Homo sapiens: one gene and its partners. The protein of the gene in region 2 purifies or fractionates together with the protein of the main gene of each other region. This does not show direct contact. Each region holds a gene or a part of one and is shown on either strand. Other genes may lie near its edges.

Region 1 (5,100 bases), on a different chromosome or scaffold from region 2:
TTGATCTTACTCCGAACCCCAATGTACGAAATCTGAAGTGCTTGTAAGGATTTAGAACAGCACAGACTACCCGGAACAAAGGAGATACAAAACATTTCTTAGCAACCAAAAATAAAAGGGAAATGGGCCACTGAGGCAGATGGGTCTCTCAGATTAAATGCCATATAAATTGCATGTGTGGAACCAAATACAGCAGAAAACCCTCAGTTAATGAGGCATAGCTTGGTAAATTGGGAACTTGATGAGGGTTTTTAACGTAATCTGGTATCACTTAGAATGGCCTTAGTTTCCCATTCTCTCAGCACCTTCACAGAGGCCCACATGCCTCTGACATCAAATCTGTCAAACTTGGGGACAAAGGACATTAACAGTTCTTGAAAGGTGACCTTAGTTAATGATACCCACAGATACTAATTTCATTACTTAAGGAATCTGTGTTCCTCAGAATTTCCAGAATCACAAGTGATACCTGCCAATTACAGTTTAAGTTACTAACGGATATACAACTCTTCAAGGCAGAAACTTAAGTCTCATTATGTTGGTTACATATACTGTTTTTATTTGGGTTTGTTGAATGAGAATAAAAACACCCCAGTTTCTTCTGCAGGTCGAGCCCTTCTCTATAACGGTCATTACAAACAACCCTGAAGTGGCTGGAATATAGTCAGCAAGGGGCCCACATGAACAGCTCATCTGGAATCTTTGCAAGTACGTATTTATGTCCTTTGGTGCCTTGCACAGTAAGGCACTGTTAATGACGTAACAGAATAGAGGAAATGCCCACAGCAAATAGTTCTAGTGACAATTTACTAGACAAGTTACAGTTTAATAATGGTGGTGGTGATTGTTTCTTTCATTTTATTATTATTATTTTTTTACAATAAGGGTGTAGCCTTTATACTCCACACACACAAAATAAAACAAGTGCTTATTACGAAAAGAGTCCCTGCCCCCACCCCCTAGAACATCCTGAACATAGCAATTCAACAGAACAGAAAAATCAAGACGTTTGATTTCAAAATTTCAATAAAAAAGCAAAAGTATGTAATGCAACAGCTGTTCAACTTCCAACTCTAAATAGGCACCATTAAACAAAAAACCCCAGTATTTTAAATTTCTCCAGCACACATTCCAGGATCAATGCTCTGAACTGTAATCAGCTAGTAATTCATAACGGGAATACAGCCTTAGAATGGAAGCTATATTGCTTCCCTGCCCCCTTTCTCTTACAATTGGAGAGTGTAGGTATTAAGGGATACAAAGTCAGAGGAAGAATAATTAAAAAGAAAAATGCCCAAAGCTGCAGCTGTTTGGACTAGGAAGACAGCATTTTACAAACGTTCAAAAAATCCCAAGGCAAGTAACACAATTTGTTCACTAGCACTCTTACTTGAAAGAATAAAGAGATCAGCATCTTATTATATAAAACTGTACTTTCAGAACTGTATTACAGGTTCACCAGAAACTATGGATGTAGTTTTAGGCATCATCAAGGAAAACAGGTTCAGTTCAGATCAAGTTAGATACTGTACATCTAGCCTAGCTGGATCTGGTGTCTGGATCTGCTCACTGTCACCCTGAACAGCTGTGAACTAAACAATAGTACGTAACTCCGTAGGAAGCTTAAGGACTGAAGAAATGTACACAGCTAGTTAGATCTCCCCTGCTTCGCGCTCTTCAGAGCTCCTCCTGTCTTCTGATCTGCCATTAGCACTCTCATAGGACCGCTTCTTATCTTTCCGATCTCTGTCACGAGGTGATCTGTCTCTTGAACTCCTGTCTCTGTCACATGATGCTAAGTCTTGGTCTCTGAATCTTTCTTTTGAGGATCTGAAAAATATTAATTTGAGGAGCAAAATATGTTGGGAAACCCAAAAACCCAAATTAAAGAATAGGATAAATATTAAGCTCTTGATAGCTGAAGATATATAGACGAATATACCCATGACAGAGGAGTCAGTTTTCTGACAAATTACAGAGCACTACCATAGTTGATAAGGGCATTAAAACAAGAAGATGGGTGAAAAACAAATAGCAGAGGGTCAGAAGGCTAAAATAATTTCTTACAGGCTACTCTCATCTCAGAGACAACACAGAGTTTCTCCAATTCATAAAAGGTATTTTAATATAAAAAATAATACATAGATAACAGCTTTAAAAAGTGAAAGAAATGTATTATCTAAATTTTAAATGGCTTAGAATAGGGGCCAGATGGTGACTATCTGGGGTACTGCAGGTCCATGCAATCTTTGTGGCAGTTCTTTTCTTTTTAGAATGTAAAAACCATCCATAGCTTGCTGGTTGTACAGGCTACCGGCCAGATTTGGCCTATCGGCAACAGTTTGCCAACACCTGACTTAGATAAGAGAACTACTCAATTATTAATATGAATTTAAATAACCACTTCTAAAAATCTACTCATACTGAGTTAGCTTATTCAACCAACAAGGGGAAATAAAAAAAGACAAAGATGCTCACACTAATAAATCTTGATTAGCCATAACTGTTTACTACCTTCTCCATTCCCATACCCAACTTCATTATAAGAAAGGTAAATAATAAATCAATCGGAAAACCAAACATATTATGGAATCAGAATAAACATGGAATCTTCCATACTTCCAACATCTAAAATTCAACAAATTACATTTATTTGGTTCTTTACAGGTGACACAGCACTTTTACATAATTATCTCACTCAACCCATATTCAAAATTAGGATCTGAGGCACTACCAAGAACCTGAATAAGTAATACTTTCAGGAAAATAAAAAATATGACTGTTCAGTTTTAGAAATATAGTTAAGGAGGGTTAAACAAAAAATGGTTCTAAAATAATGTCCACTTTGAACATTCTACTTAATGTTTTAATAAACTTAAAATGATATAAAAAGACTGGGCACGGTGACTCACGCCTGTAATCCCAGCACTTTGGGAGGCCAAGGCAGGCAGATCACTTGAGGTCAGGAGTTCAAGACCAGCCTAGCCAACATAGTGAAACCCCCGTCTCTACTTAAAATACAAAAAATTAGCTGAGAGTGGTGGCGTGTGCCTGTAGTCCCAGCTACTCGGGAGGCTGAGGCAGGAGAATCACTTGAACCTGGGAGGCGGAGGCTGCAGTGAGCCCAGATCGCATTACTGCACTCCAGCCTGGGTGACAGAGCAAGACTCCATCTCAACAACAACAAAAAATCACAGTGCCAAGTCTAGTGATTCCACGTCTACACTAGTCCTATCCATAGCCTTTGTTGGAATAAAATATGAAAAGAGATGGTAAAAATGATACCTAAAAAGACACTAGATGCCAAACAGTCCCAGTGATCAGTAATAACTAAAAAACTATGAGTATCAACTACTATGTCCCACACATAGTGGTTTCCATATACTATTTTACTCAAACTACCAATAATCTTAACAAAGCAGGTATTCTTACTTTCTCCACTTAGTAGATGGGGAAAGACAGGTGAGATAGTTATAAATTACTTAGCCAAGGTGGGACGTGGTGGCTCATGCCTGTAATCCCAGCATTTTGGGAGGCCAAGGCAGGTGGATCACCTGAGGTCGGGAGTTTGAGACCAGCCCGGCCAACATGGCGTAACCCTGTCCCTACTAAAAATACAAAAATAGCCAGGTGTGGTGGCCTGGGCCTGTAATCCCAGCTACTTGGGAGGCCGAGGCAAAAGAATCGCTTGAACCCGCAAGGCAGAGGTTGCAACGAGCCGAGATCGCGCCACTGCCCTCCAGCCTGGGTGACAGAACGAGACTCTCGTCTCAAAAAAAAAAATAAATTACTTAGCCTAAACCAATGAACCCAAGTAATCTGACTTTGGAGTCTGCACTAAACATGTTTGAACAGAGCAAAAAGATAGATAGATGCAAATGGTCCTCATTTACGCAGGGCACTATTGCCAGGAAGAGGTCACAAAGAATCTACTTGTATCAGAGACAAGTATTTCACAGTAGGGAAAGGAGAACAGCAAAACATAAAAGGCTTTCAATAAGAACTTTTACCTTGAAAAATTAAACCCAAATATGTAGCAATAACTTGATGTTGTATGAAATACCAAGTAGGTTTTAACAGCAATTATCTGGTAATTTTTAGTATAAAACAAAGAATGATGCTTTAAAAGAGAATAATTTGAATTCAAAGATGAGAAAGTGCTCGAGAAAAGCAAAACTTTTAATAGTTTTACAAAAATAATCCTCTTTATGAACATGCTGACATCTTAGATATGATCATGTATCATGTATGGTGGAAAAATTCCTATACAACTTCATCAACGCAGGAAGCATCAGGGACTAAAATAACACAATCTCAGATTAGGGGACTTCACGCCCATCCTTCCCATACCCATCACCAATAAAGACATTTAGGAGTTCAGCAACAACAATGACAGTTGGGCAGATTTGACACAGGAAAATGTCTAAACCTTCCATCACCTAGCAGGATAATTCTGAAAATTCATTGTGCAGATAAGACAGGTAACTTTTAAAAAATGCTTATTTCTGAACACTGCACTGAGGGTAGACCCCCAAAATCAGTTTCAAGAGTGTGAGATAAGAGGCCTACAAATCACTCTGTCCTTTACAAACTCCCTCCTCATTCTCTGCATTTGCCTAGGATATTCACTCTATATGGAATATCTTTTTCCTAGCTGATTCTACCTGTTCAAATTTTACCGACTACCTGAAGCCATTTTTGATTACTCTGTTATTTGCCTCATCTAAACTCTCGGATCATTTATTCTATGATATGCAGTTTAGCACTTTATAACATGTGGTAGTCTTATGCCAGTCTAATTATTGTCAAAGATGTCAATCCTTTGTTCTAACTCACATAGGAGACTTTTTGTTTTTTTTTTTGTTTGTTTTTTTTTGTTTTGAGAGCTGGAGTCTCGCTCTGTCACCCAGGCTGGAGTGCAGTGGTGCGATCTTGGCTCACTGCAACCTCCACCTTTGTGTTCAAGCAATTCTCCTTCCTCAGCCTCCTGAGTAGCTGGGATTACAGGCATGTGCCACCATGCCCGGCTAATGTTTGTATTTTAGTAGAGATGGGGTTGGTTGGCCAGGCTGGTCTTGAACTCCTGATCTCAAGTGATAC
Region 2 (7,039 bases):
CCTCCTTGCTAAGCTTTTCGTTGGTTCTTGGCTGGAGTGGGCTGTTCTGTATTCTCAGCACCTTGTTCACATCCCTTTTGGGTCATGCTATTCTGAAATTGTATATGTGTCTGTTTTTCTTTTTTTCTTTGTGTATCTAGCTCAGTTCTCTTAGTTGTTCAGTAAATACTCAGTGAATGAACATAAATGAATACCCTGTAAATTTTGGTCTCTAAGCTTTAAAAGAAGTGTATTAACTTCAGTCCGTTGATGGCGTATTGATAGGTCAGCCATTCTGGGTTGTAGGTCTTGGCATATTTTATAAAATAGTAGATGATGTGAGCTTATGGTTATTTGCATTAAAGGCCAGTGTTTTTCTTGATACATATGTTTAAGTGTCCATTCACCTTTCAGTTACCTTTTAAAGTAGTCCTCGGTTTATAACCAACTGGAAATTATACCACTTGAATTCTTTTTATCAGGACATGATTCTAAGTGGTACTGTGCGAAGTGAACAAACCAGATTTTGGAAAAGTGGTTCAGCAGTCTGTGTATTCTAATTATAGGGAGCATTAGGACTCAAATTCTCCAGGTTTTTAGAAAAGATTTTTGTACTTTAAGGGTATATTGTTAATATCTGTTGAGATGCCTCACCTGAGAACCTTTCTCTGCTGTGGTTAGGGAGTGTTAATCAGAATCACTTGTGCCGTGCCCTACGCGAGAAGGACTCCTTGAGTTCTTTGAAAACATGTTTGGAATAGAATTATAGCCCTGTTTTCCTGAGTGGAACCAGTTGTGATTTTCCTTTGAAATAATTTGAATATATAAAAGATTGACATTCTTCTCACATATATAATGTTGGGAATGTAAGGTATATTCAAAAGTAAACATTTGTGGCCAATTTTTTTGGCTCAGATTACTATGACATGGAATCCATGGTCCATGCAGACACAAGATCATTTATTCTGAAGAAGCCAAAGCTGTCTGAGGAAGTAGTAGTGGCACCAAACCAAGAGTCGGGGATGAAGACTGCAGATTCCCTTCGGGTACTTTCAGGACACCTTATGCAGACACGGTAGATGGTTTCTTTTTCTTGTGTAGTTAATTTGTGTGATTAGATAGTAAAGGTTAACCATTCGTTTGCAGCTTCCCTCCTCCCCGCCCTAACCGCTAGCGTAGAGTGCTTTCATTGATTCAGTAGCTAGCCCATGAATAGTTAGCCAAATTCAGTTTTCAAGAATTCCAGTTCATCTTTCTTGTTCAGAAATCCATTAACCTACAAATTACAACTCAGTGTATGATTTAACTCTATTAAAGATTCTTTTCTTTATGCAAATTCAGGAAATGCAAGTTTAAAAGCCAGCTGACCATAATCAGGTCAGCTCTAAAGAGAGTTGGCAGATCAGGTTTGGGTGATTTTTCCCTTAGAAAATTGACTGTTTCTATAAAAGAAGAAACATACAGATAATTAGCATAAATGCTGCTGGCCCTTGTGTTCTGAGCATTGATGCTAATTTTTTGGTTTGTTTCCATGTTGACCCTATGAAGATCGAATGGGTGATGGGGTCAGGCTTGAGGGGAGATTGTCCTTAGTAAGTACAGGCTGGAGGGTCACTGGTGATGCCACTGTGACTGTTCATGGCCATCGTGTGTTAGCAGAGAACCCACCAGTGCTGCACCTGGTAGCCCTACCTAGTCTTTTTTTATTGAACCAAACGCAAAGCCAAGGGAGTGATAGTTCTGCTGAAGAGCACTTTAGGGGGCTCAGCGTTTTGTGTTTGTTTCCCTAATTCTATGGTATTTTTTATCTGTCTGGCAGAGATCTTGTACAACCAGATAAACCTGCAAGTCCCAAGTTTATAGTGACGCTGGATGGTGTCCCCAGCCCCCCAGGATACATGTCAGATCAAGAGGAGGACATGTGCTTTGAAGGAATGAAACCCGTAAACCAAACTGCAGCCTCAAACAAGGGACTCAGAGGTCTCCTCCACCCACAGCAGTTGCACTTGCTGAGCAGGCAGCTTGAGGACCCAAATGGTAGCTTTTCTAACGGTGTGTTGAGAGCTCAGATTTTCAGGGTGCTGTCATTGTGAAGGGAATCTTTGACTTGTTTCTCTACCTTGAATGAATATTGGTTAAAGGCCTTGCTTTTATTTATATTCAGTAATGGCCTTTTTTCTTCTTTCAGACAAACCCACCAAGTACATTTCAGACTCTTTTTCCTGTGTCTTTTTCATAGGTGGGCTGTTACTCCAGTTTGAAAACGGAGTTCAGCCATGGAACCTGAGAGACCTCTTCCGCTTATGCTGGCTAAAGGATGAACCACCATTCTTGTTGCCTTCTTTACCTTTGTATTTTCTTCAGAAACTGTACTGCCACTTTGCCCTTTTATCAGCAATAGTCTCTTGCAATTAACTTGAGAGAAAAATTTAGATTTGATGCTATTTCTACCTCAGTGAAATTTCTTTGAAAGGAGTTTCTCACCTAATCTATCAAGATCTTGGAACTGTTTAAATTAATGTTGAAGAGTAATATTTAGCAGAACTCAGATGAACTCATTTCAGATAGCACCATAGTTTTTGGCAGGTGACAGTTTCTTATCACCGTTTCTTTCACTGGGTATCAGTGGTAGCTGCAACGCCACTGATCATTTCCATTCATGATAGAGAATGGTAATTATGTTCCTTATATCTTCTAAAATATTTAGAAGCACCTCTTCATTGGCAGGAGGGATAATTACTCAATCTTAAAAGCGTACAGATTCAAAGGAAAAACAGTAATGGATTTTGAAACATTTCCTTGAGTAATCCTCTTCTTGGAAGAGATATGAAAATGTATTGAATACCTTTCTCGATCATTAAAAATAGAATAGACTTCAGAGGGAAATCATATGTTAGTGGAGCAATAACACTTAGCTTTATTTTAATTGGTTGCGTTTCCTACTGTGAATCAATGACGTAGTGTCGTGGTTTTGATTAGTGGAGGGAGTTGAAAATCTGACCCTATCAACAGGAAGAAAAACTTAAAAAATAGTAAAAGCTGCAGTAGGCAGTCCCGATTTATTGACTCTGTATGTTTTGTCTAAAGAGAAGACTCCAGTGTTTTCACTACTCTTGATTTTCAATTTGGTACCTTAATTTTTTGGTCTATTAGGATCTGGTTTCATTTAAATGTAGGTGTCCATATGAGGCTTTATGGGGTATACATGTAGCAGCAGTGACACCATAAATAATATGTTAGTAAAAATTCTTGCCAGTGCTGTGGCCATTGTGCTGACAGCCATGATGAGTGGTGAGCCTCCTTTCCCATTGCTTTGACTGGGGACTCAGTGTTTCCCTGCTGCTCAAGGATGAAGCTTTGTAAGATTAGCATAGGGGTGTGGCTGGAGAGACTCCTGCAGAACAGTTCTCAGGAGTCTCTAGTCTCTGCACCACTTCCCCTGTGAGCAGGGAGTTTGAAACTGCAATTGCTTCTGGTTGGTTTTATGTTGGGTTGTTTCAAGGATGCTACCAACAACAACATCTGTTTTAACCTGCTGTCTTTTCACTCACTGTCATATGGCAGCACAGATTTTATAGCTTGCTTTCTTTGTTTTTTTTTTTTTTGAGATAGAGTCTCTCTGTCCCCCAGGCTGGAGTGCAATGGAGCCATCTCAGCTCACTGCAACTTCTGCCTTCCAGGTTGAAAGCCATTCTTCTGCCTCAGTCTCCCAAGTAGCTGGGATTACAGGCATGCACCATCACACCTGGCTAATTTTGTAGTTTAAGTAGAGACGGGGTTTTACCATGTTGGTCAGGCTAATCTCCAACTCCTGACCTCAAGTGATCCACCAACCTCGGCCTCCCAAAGTTCTGGGATTACAGGTGTGAGCCACCGTGCCTGGCCTATAGCTTTCAATAAAAGGTGAATTTGCCTCTTAAAATTTGAACAGAAAGTTTTAATAGTTTACAAAGTCGGTGTCAGCCAGTGAAGACTAGGGGCATGACCTTCGTATGACTTAATGTTTTTAAAAGAAAGATAAAGTTTCTTTGTAAGGTATTATTGTAATAATCACATTTCTTTGTAAAGTATTATATTGTTCCTGAGTATCTAGCTACTTTGCTTTCCAGCTAGGCTTCTCTTGGGTATTCTCTTAATCTTTTATTTGTACTGGGTTCTTGTGTATATATTATAGTCTGCTGTGTGTAATTTATTATAGGAAAAGGGTAAGACACATTTACTTTGCGGGGATGACACAAAAAACCTGTAAAAATTAGAGAAACTTCCAGTCATCTCACATTTTCTTTGGAACCGATTATTCTTGTATCTTAGAACTAAAATGACTTATACTGTTTTGTTTTTAGAAAGGGTATCCCTCCTGTTGCCCAGGCTGGAGTGCATTGGCACAGTCATGGCTCACTGCAGCCTCCACCTCCCAGGCTCAAGTGATTCTCCCACCTCAGCCTCCTGAGTAGTTGGTTACTACAGGTGCACACCACCATGCCTGGCTAATTTTTTGTATTTTTTGTAGAGATGGGGTTTCACCATGTTGCCCAGGCTGGTCTGAAACTCCTGAGCTCAAGTGATCTGCCCGCCTCGGCCTCCCAAAGTGCTGGGGTTACAGGCATGAGCCACCACATCCTATTTAAAGCTTAAATAGGACTTTTACTATTTTTAAAGTAGCATAGAAAACTGTTTGTATCAGGCATAGTCATAATTGCTCTTTGATGCTGCTCCTATCTGGGCTGCATGACTACATTTGTGTGCCTTGTTCTCCTGTAGTGAGGACAGAATGTGGGTCACTGGAACAGTAAGTACTCATAGAACTAGCTGCTGCTGCTATTACGACTGGTTGCCTGTTTTGCATTTTTTCCGTTTAATCATCAGACTCTAAGGAAGACATTATTTTCTCTTTGTATAGATGAGGAAACAGAATTCCAAAAAGTTAGCTAACATTTGCACAGAGTGTCTGGCTGAGCAACTAAGTGGCAGAGTCAGATTTTAACTGACCTCTGGCAAGAGGACTAGAGGAATACAGTTGAAGTGATACTTGCTTTCATGAACATGAATGTGAACCATAATACATAATACCCATGATGCTATTTTGTGGGGAGTTTAAGGTGTCTCAGTCCAGAAATTAGCAGCTGATTATTGCCTGTAGCTGTAATTTTACTTATTCAGTGTTATTTAATAAATTGCCAGCATTACAATTTCGATGAAGGCAGATTTTTGGCTTACTGAAACAGGATAAAAATCTGGCAACAGGGGTCCCACTTTGCCCTGTCATAGTAATCGAAGCTGTGATTGGATGTGGCACAGGGAGTGGAGTGGATGGGTGTGCACTTGCTTTCCAGGCTGCTGCTCCCCGTCTGTCCCTTATTGCATTTATCATCTTCAGCCCAGTCAGTCTTGCTGTTAGGGGAACTGCCCAGTCTCTGTAAGTGATGGCATTTGTGACCCCATTGTAGGTAAAAATGTTTTCCCCTTTTTAGACATTGCTGGCTGAGCGCGGTGGCTCATGCCTATAATCCCAGCACTTTGGGAGGCCGAGGTGGGTGGATCGCTTAAGTCCTGGAGTTCAAGACCAGCCTGGGCAACGTGGGGAAACCCTGTAGCCAGGCGTGGTGGCACGTGCTACTTGGTAGGGGCTGAGGTGGGAGTATCACTTGAGCCTGGGAGGCAGAGGTTGCAGTGAGCCGAGATTACACCACTGGCACACCACTGTACTCCATCCTGGGTGACAGAGCAGGACCCTGTCGTAAAAAAAAAAAAAAAAAAAAAAAGTAAAAGACATTGCTGAGTTTCGCACCTGGACTTACAGCTCAGCAGGTGGGAATCCTTTTGTATTTGGGCCACTCATCATCTTGCTGGCGTGTGAGGATTCACATCTCCTTATCACCTTACCTGTTTTCAGTTTTTATTTAATTTTATTAGTTCCCCACTTGACGTCCTTCTCTATTTTTAATTCAGCTATGAATTAGTATTGAGAATTAGAATTTTTGGTGAAAAATTTGGCCGTAGTTGCAGAGTCACTGTCCTCTTTCCTTTTCACAGTGAGAACTGTTGTCTTCTTCCTGGCAACCTTTTATAGGATTCTATGGCCAGTGTTAATCCCATAATTTGAGCTCACTTATTTTATATGACTGTACATTTAACAGAAGATTCTAAGACAGGTTTGAGGGAAATATGTTAAAGGTGCTGTGTACTGAATTGATCATAATGAATGAAATACTTTTATTTCCTTTCCCTTTGTAGCTGAGATGAGTGAACTGAGTGTGGCACAGAAACCAGAAAAACTTTTGGAGCGCTGCAAGTACTGGCCTGCTTGTAAAAATGGGGATGAGTGTGCCTACCATCACCCCATCTCACCCTGCAAGTGAGTACCATCCCCCCATCTCACCCTGCAAGTGAGTACCATCCCCCCATCTCACCCTGCAAGTACCATCCCCCATCTCACCTGGCAAGTACCATCCCATCTCACCCAGCAAGTACCATCCCCCACATCTCAACCCTCAAGTGAGTACCATCCCATCTCACCCTGCAAGTACCATCCCATTTCACCCTGCAAGTACCATCCCCCATCTCACCCTGCAAGTACCATCTCCCCATCTCACCCTGTAACTACCATCCCATCTCACCCTGCAAGTGAGTACCATCCCTGCATTTCACCCTGCAAGTACCATCTCATCTCACCCTGCAAGTACCACCCCCTCATCTCACCCTGCAAGTATCATCCCCCATCTAGCCCTGTAAGTGCGAGTACCATCCCCCATCTTACCCTGCAAGTACCATCACCCACTTCACCCTGCAAGTACCATCCCCCACCTCAGCCTGCAAGTACCATCCCCCACCTCAGCCTGCAAGTACCATCCCCTATCTCACCCTGCAAGTACCATCCCCATCTCACCCTGCAAGTATCATCCCCCACCTCACCCTGCAAGTACCATCCCCCATCTCACCCTGCAATTGAGTACCATCCCCCATCTCACCCTGCAAGTACCATCCCCCATCTCACCCTGCAAGTGAGTACCATCCCCCATCTCACCTTGCAAGTACCATCCCCCATCTCACCCTGCAAGTA
Region 3 (7,039 bases), on a different chromosome or scaffold from region 2:
TGTCTCCTTGTCCGCTGCCACATGGAGTCAGTACTAATTTACCTCTTGATTATCTAGGAATACGCTGTCCATTTAAACATGCCTTAGGCCAGGTGCAGTGGCTCACACCTGTAATCCCATTACTCTGGGAGGCCATGGTAAGAGGACTGCTTGATCTCAGGAGTTCAAGACCAGCCTAAGCAACATAGCAAGACCTCACCTCTGAAAAATAAAATAATTTTTTTTTTTTTTTGAGACAGAGTCTCTCTCTGTCGTCCAGGCTGGAGTGCGGTGGTGCAATCTCAGCTCGCTGCAAGCTCCACCTCCTGGGTTCAGACTATTCTCCTGCCTCAGCCTCCCAAGTAGCTGGGACTACAGGCGCCCGCCACCACACCCAGTTAACTTTTTGTATTTTTAGTAGAGACGGGGTTTCACCATGTTAGCCAGGATGGTCTCAATCTCCTGACCTTGTGATCCGCCTGCCTCGTCCTCCCAAAGTGCTGGGATTACAGGCGTGAGCCACTGTGCCCAGCCAAAATAAAATAAAATTTTAAAAGTTAGCCAAGCCACCACACCTGGCATTTTTAAATTTTTTTATTATTATTTTTCTTGAGACAGGGTCTCACTCTTATTGCCCAGGCTGTAGTGCAGTGGCACAATCTTGGCTCACTGCAACCTCTGCTTCCCAGGCTCGGGTGATCCTCCCACCTCAGTCCTGCCGAGTAGCTGGGACTACAGGTGTGCACCACCACACCTGGCTAATGTTTGTATTTTTTTTTTTTTGTAGAGACGGGGATCTTACCATGTTGCCCAGGCTGGTCTCAAACTCCTGGGGTCAAGCAATCTGCCTGCCTTGGCCTGCCAAAGTGCTGGGATTACAGGTGTGAGTCACCATGCCTGGCCCTCCCCCGCCTCTTATCCAGCTTCGTACCCTCTGCATCATGCATAGGGCCTAGCATAAGGCAAAGCCTCCCAAAACACTGCAGACATTAATGACTTTAAAAGGCCCTTCCAACAAGTGGCTCCTCAGATTCTATGATTTGGGCTCAAATCTTCCAAAACTTCACCTAGCTGGATCCCAACCATGAGGAAGTGTGAACCCAGGGAGGGAGGATGCTGTATCTGCATGTGATAGAGACATACACACAGACGACATACCATGGTCCTGAGCTAGATCTGTTCTTTGAACTTAGCATGATTTTATATTTCAGATACGACTTCTTTTTCTCTTTATTCTGAGTAATTAAAAATTGGCAAAATAGGCCGGGCATGGTGGCTCATGCCTGTAATCCCAGCACTTTGGGAGGCCAAGGCAGGCGGACAACTTGAGGTCAGGAGTTCGAGACCAGCCTGGCCAACGTGGTGAAACCCCATCTTTCCTAAAAATACAAAAAGTAGCCGGGTGTGGTGGTGGGCGCCTGTAATCCCAGCTACTCGGTGGGGCTGAGGCAGGAGGATCACCTGAGCCAGGGAAGCAGAGGTTGCAGTGAGCCGAGATTGCACCACTGTACTCCAGCCTGGGTGAGAGGGAGACTCCATTAAAAAAAAAAAATGGCAAAATGACTGCAGGAAAAAGAACCTGAAAACAGGATGTAAATATACCAGATACATAATATGGGTATTACTGGCAGGGGGATGCCTGTGGAAATACCAACAATTCTGTCACTTAGTACATTTCAGATTTCTTGAGTGTATATGGATGGCCTTCCGTGTCCTGTTCAGTACATTTCAGATTTCTTAACATGAGTTCATGCAAAGGTTTGTGACTTTACCTTTTCATGAGCCTTCCTCTGCTCTGGGTCGAATGGGTGCAAGACTTGCAGCCTACAGATTTCACACACCTCCCCGTGCAGGTAGACACAGGCATCCCCAAACCGGCACTCCCCAGCAGCTGCGTAGGGGCACAGCTGCTGCTCGTTGCTGTAGGAGCTGCTGGCCTCCACGTCATCAAGGCCACTCCTGATGGCATCCAGGTAGGAATGCGGCTTCATCTCGGGGCTGGGCTGGGGGTCGCTGCAGCTGCCTGGATTACTCACCATGCTCGGCTGGGTCTTCCTTTCAGCCATGCCAGAGAGATCTGAAAACAACACACAGCACACATGCACATGAAAATGGCCCCATTTTTCTGGTATGCCGTTAGCCAAAGCCTAACATATTAAGCTACTCTGACCTAAGAATTCCACTCTTGAGAACATATGGCAAAAAAAACACACCGAAGGGGAAAAATAAAAGGAATAGTATAAAATGTTCATAGTGACATTACTTATAATTACTTAAAAAAACAAAAAACAAAAAACAAAAATGGCAAGACAGGGAAATAGCAAAACAATAGGATATACTTATACAAAAGAACACTAAAGCCGTTTAAAATGGCAAATATGGAAATGTTAACACATGGACCAGTTAACACTAAAACAAACAAAAAAACAGTGAGAGCACTAGAACACAGTGTTTCCTTCATACCAGCAAAGGTAAAATCATTTTAAGTGAACTAGAATAGATGTCTAGAGCAAATCTGTGGGTCCTGAGGCCAGTGTAAACTGCCCCATGGTCACCCCTTCTCACGCCAGGAGCTGCTGCCTTCCCACTGCACACCTCCGAGCTTGTTTAGAGGTCACGTATTCTCACAGGATTACTCATTTGCTGAGGACAGAATCTGCCTACCTCATGGTAGCCAATTCCAAGAACTAGAAATCTCTTCACCTGGTGAGGACCAGCCAATAAAAACAACTTTTATGGCCAGGTGCAGTGGCTCTTGCCTGTAATCCCAGCACTTTGGGAGGCCGAGGCGGGCGGATCATGAGACCAAGAGTTTGAGACCAGCCTGGCCAACATAGTGAAACACTGTCTCTACTAAAAATACAAAAATTAGCTGGGCATGGTGGTGGGCACCTGTATTCCCAGCTACTCAGAAGGCTGAGGCAAGAGAATCCCTTGAACCCGGGAGGTGGAGATCATGCCACTGCACTGCAGCCTAGGCGACAGAGCGAGTCTCCATCTCCAAAAAAAAAACAAAAACAAAACAAACAAAAAACACAACAAAAAAACTTTTACAATTTGTAGCTTTCTTCCTCATCAAACCCTGTTTTAAGGCACAGACCATGCCCCAAACCCTAGTGTGCTATTCTTTTCCCAAAGGTGCAATCTAAACTGTCAAACACTGTCAGCATAAAAACTAAGACCATTCACTGGCCTAAAAGTCAAACAGTGAAACATGCTCTTTAGCAAAATATTTAGTTTTCTTTTTTTTTTTTTTTTTTTTGAGAGGGAGTCTCACTCTTGTCATCCAGGCTGGAGTGCAGTGGCGTGATCTCAGCTCACTACAATCTTTGCCTCCCGGGTTCAAGAAATTCTCCTGCCTCAGCCTCCCAAGTAGCTGGGATTACAGACACCTGCCACTACACCCGGCTAATTTTTGTATTTTTAGTAGAGACAGGGTTTCTACTAAACCATGTTGGCCAGGCTGGTCTCGAACTCCTGACCTCAGGTGATCCACCCGCCTCAGCCTCCCAAAGTGTTGGGGTTATAGGTGTGAGCCACTTTACCCAGACAAAATATTTACGTTTGAAATGAAGAGCTTGATGCTTCTCACCAGCTGGACAACCACCATATGAAGATGGAAGTTACATGTTGACAAAAAGATTGTGTTTTTATGTTTTACCAGGCCAGTCTTGGAGCTCAACCCAGCCTTGGGCACGAGGGCGAATGTATCATTTGAATGATCTGCAGCCACATGGAGCCTCTTCAGAACAGTTCTGAAGTCTCTCCGCGCAGACAATCTGGAGGTGTATTAGGTTAGGAGTCCTCTTGACAAGAGGAGGCTAGAAAGGAGCACCAAGCATTAACAAGAGTGCTATGCAAAAAGACGCAACAAAAGGCTTCCGCTTACTCACTTCGGTCTCTAAGAACCAATGTTCTCTTTTCACGCTTTCCGGGTTCATGTGAGTTAGTTTTCACAATGGATGCAGTGACCTCGGAAGGAGGGTGAGGACTGTGGAAAGCTGGGGAGGGCACACTGTGGGCCATGGTGCCCACAGCACCTCCAGCTGCAGCAGAGGGCCTCGTGTGGTCATATCTAAACAAAACACACAGCAGATGCATTACAGACATGCCACCCACACACATCTCCCACACTCCCCAGATGCCAATGGCCCTCCTTCTGCTGCACTTGTTGAGGTGAAGAAGGCGGCCATCTTTTCCAATATTTAAACTCTAACAGGATTATCGATTATTAACAGATGCTTGGCAATTCATTGTGAGGGGGACATTTGCTATCTATCACCTATGCTTAAGTGTCTCTGTGGGACTTGAGTGGGACAGACACACAGCACCAGACCACACAGAGAACCTGAAAGTTCCAAACAGATGTTGAGCTAAAATCTCCTGATGCCTGACTGACCCAGTATTCTTTTGAGCAGGAGTCCCCAAAATGCTGACAAGGGCCAATGATCTCTCCCTGACTGTCTCTCTTGGCACTCATTGACAGGGGAAGACCAACGTGGGCCTACTTCCATCATCTCCCACTGCACTGCAGAGAAAAAGGAGGGAAGGAAGCTTTGCAGTCTAGAAAGAAAAGATCGGCTCTTTGCTACAAAAGCATGAACAAGTTTCCGGAATTGTGTACAATTTTATAACTATATATTCATAAGAATAAGGCTGAAAAGTAGTTTTAAAAAATGAAAATTAGGCCAGGCACGGTGGCTCACGCCTGTAATTCCAGCACTTTGGGAAGCTGAGGCGGGAGGATCACGAGGTCAGGAGTTAGAGACCAGCCTGACCAACATGGTGAAACCCCATCTCTACTAAAAATACAAAAAAAAAAAAAATCAGCCAGGCGTAGTGGCAGATGCCTGTAATCTCAGCTACTTGGGAGGCTGAGGCAGGAGAACCCTGGAGGCGGAGGTTGCAGAGAACTGAGATCGCACCACTGCCCTCCAGCCTGGGCAACAGTGAGAGACTCTATCTCAAAAAAAAAAAGAAAAGAAAATTAGTTTTAGGGTACTGAAACTGAGGTTTTAAACTTATTTGCCATACTTTTTGTGATGTTGCCATATTACTTTTACATTAAAATTTCCCCCTTATCAAGACCCATTCTCCAAATGAAATCAGTGTCACAGCTGGAATCTGTTGCAGAGTCCTTGCCTGCACCGAGTTCCATAGGCACAGTAGCCCTTCTGGTAGTACTTGCAGATGGTGGACGGTTTGCTGTTTGCCAAGTCATGTGAGAATAGGCACTGACTTCCTTCCCGACACACACCATGCATAAAATACCTGCAGAGACAAGCACAGGCATACAACTTTTAGAAGCACATTTTGCTTTATAAAATCAGCTTATTCTTGAACTTAGCATACAAACATTTACCAGGCATATATTATGTATAAAGGCTCTATTAGGCACTGGAGAGAGATCTATATATTTCCTTGATTCTACAACAGTGATTTCAGAGGCACTACAACTGATTCAATGACAGCTTTTCTGAAAGAAAAACAAATGATCCCATATATTTCTATGTGAAGATATATCTTCCTGATTTGAGATATGTTCAATGTGAGCCACATAATTGAGAAAACACTCTGTGAAAAACTGTTCTCTCTGTTCTCAAGGAGCTTAAAGGGCATGACTAACGAAACCAGAAGATCTGGGCTCAAGACCCAGCTCTGCCACTTAAGAACATGTCACAAAACCAACTTCCCTGGGCCTTGCTACCTTTCCCTATAAAATGAAGATTATACTACCCACTTAACTGGTCGTGGTGAGGATCAAATACCATAGTGTGGTATCAAAAGATATACACAGATGCTCCTTGACTAATGATGGAGTTACATCCCAATAAAGCCACTGTTTTTTGTTTTTTGTTTTGAGATGGAGTCTCTCTGTCACCCAGGCTGAAGTGCAATGGCACAGTCTCAGCTCACTGCAACCTCTGCCTTCCGGGTTCAAGCGATTCTCCTAGCTCAGCCTGGGCTACCTTACTTATGCTTAGAACACTTACATCAGCCTACAGTTGGGCCAAATCATCTAACACAAAATCTATTTTACAATAAAGTGTAGAATAATCTCATGCAATTTATTGAACACCGTACTGAAAGTGAGAAACAGAAAGGTTGTATGGGTACTTGTAGTTTTTAATGAAAGCTGTTTCTCATACATTGTTTCAGATGTTTCAGAATATCAGATGTATCACATGTTCTGTATCAGAATATTCCACTGAGATATCAGATCCTGGCCTTGAAGAATAAGTGGTACAGGAATACCTGGGAGGCTAACTCTGTCCAGACAGGGTAGAGAGACCTGAGTGAATACTCAAACAGTAGAGACCCTAGATGAACATGTCTTGATATTAAAGATAAACTAGGCTGGGTGTGGTGGCTCACACCTGTAATCCTAGTACTTTGGGAGGCCAAGGCGGGCGCATCACCTGAGGTCGGGGGTTCCAGACCAGTCTGACCAACATGGAGAAACCCCGTCTCTACTAAAAAAAATACAAAATTAGTCAGGAGTGGAGGTGCATGCCTGTAATCCCAGCTACTTGGGAGGCTGAGGCAGGAGAATCGCTTGAACTCAGGAGGTGGAGGTTGCGGTGAGCCGAGATTGCGCCATTGCACTCCAGCCTGGGTGACAAGAGCAAAAACTCTGTCTCAAAAAAAAAAAAAAAAAAAAAAAGATAAACTAGCCAGGGCAACAAAGGGAGACCCTAAAATTTAAAAATTAGCCTAGCATGGTGGTATGCACCTGTGGTTCAGCTACTCAGGAGAGTGAGACAGGAGGATTGCTTAAACCCAGGAGTTCAAGGCTGCAGTAGCCATGATTGTGCCACTGCACTCTAGCCTGGGTGACAGCAAGATCCTGTCTCACAAAAGAAAAAAAAAAAGTAAACTAGTGTTAGAGTAGAAGTATTTTAGACACACCCTAATAAGGCTTAAAAAAAAAAAACACAAGCTGATAGCAAGTATATAACTTACTGTCAGCCAAAACAAACTTTAAAGGAAGACAATACAATCCAAATGCTCAGAAACTCACAATGCTTGGCATCCAATCATAAATTACTAGATATGCCAA

Evidence for each region.
Region 1: the proteins of ZC3H14 (region 2) and LUC7L2 purify together in Homo sapiens (affinity purification with mass spectrometry; 3 studies listed by BioGRID and IntAct, with this or other methods). This does not show direct contact.
Region 3: the proteins of ZC3H14 (region 2) and MKRN2 purify together in Homo sapiens (affinity purification with mass spectrometry; 2 studies listed by BioGRID and IntAct, with this or other methods). This does not show direct contact.

The regions. Positions count from the first base shown.
Region 1 is NC_000007.14:139,418,893-139,423,992, reverse strand, and holds the end of LUC7L2 (putative RNA-binding protein Luc7-like 2), read right to left. Parts: intron 1,831-5,100; coding exon 1,653-1,830; 3' UTR 539-1,652; downstream 1-538. Other genes in the region: FMC1-LUC7L2 readthrough protein, read right to left, coding at 1,653-1,830. UniProt on the Homo sapiens protein: May bind to RNA via its Arg/Ser-rich domain.
Region 2 is NC_000014.9:88,601,030-88,608,068, forward strand, and holds part of ZC3H14 (zinc finger CCCH domain-containing protein 14), read left to right. Parts: intron 1-894; coding exon 895-1,054; intron 1,055-1,798; coding exon 1,799-2,031; intron 2,032-6,213; coding exon 6,214-6,334; intron 6,335-7,039. UniProt on the Homo sapiens protein: RNA-binding protein involved in the biogenesis of circular RNAs (circRNAs), which are produced by back-splicing circularization of pre-mRNAs.
Region 3 is NC_000003.12:12,567,086-12,574,124, reverse strand, and holds part of MKRN2 (E3 ubiquitin-protein ligase makorin-2), read right to left. Parts: intron 5,251-7,039; coding exon 5,122-5,250; intron 4,055-5,121; coding exon 3,873-4,054; intron 2,057-3,872; coding exon 1,752-2,056; intron 1-1,751. UniProt on the Homo sapiens protein: E3 ubiquitin ligase catalyzing the covalent attachment of ubiquitin moieties onto substrate proteins.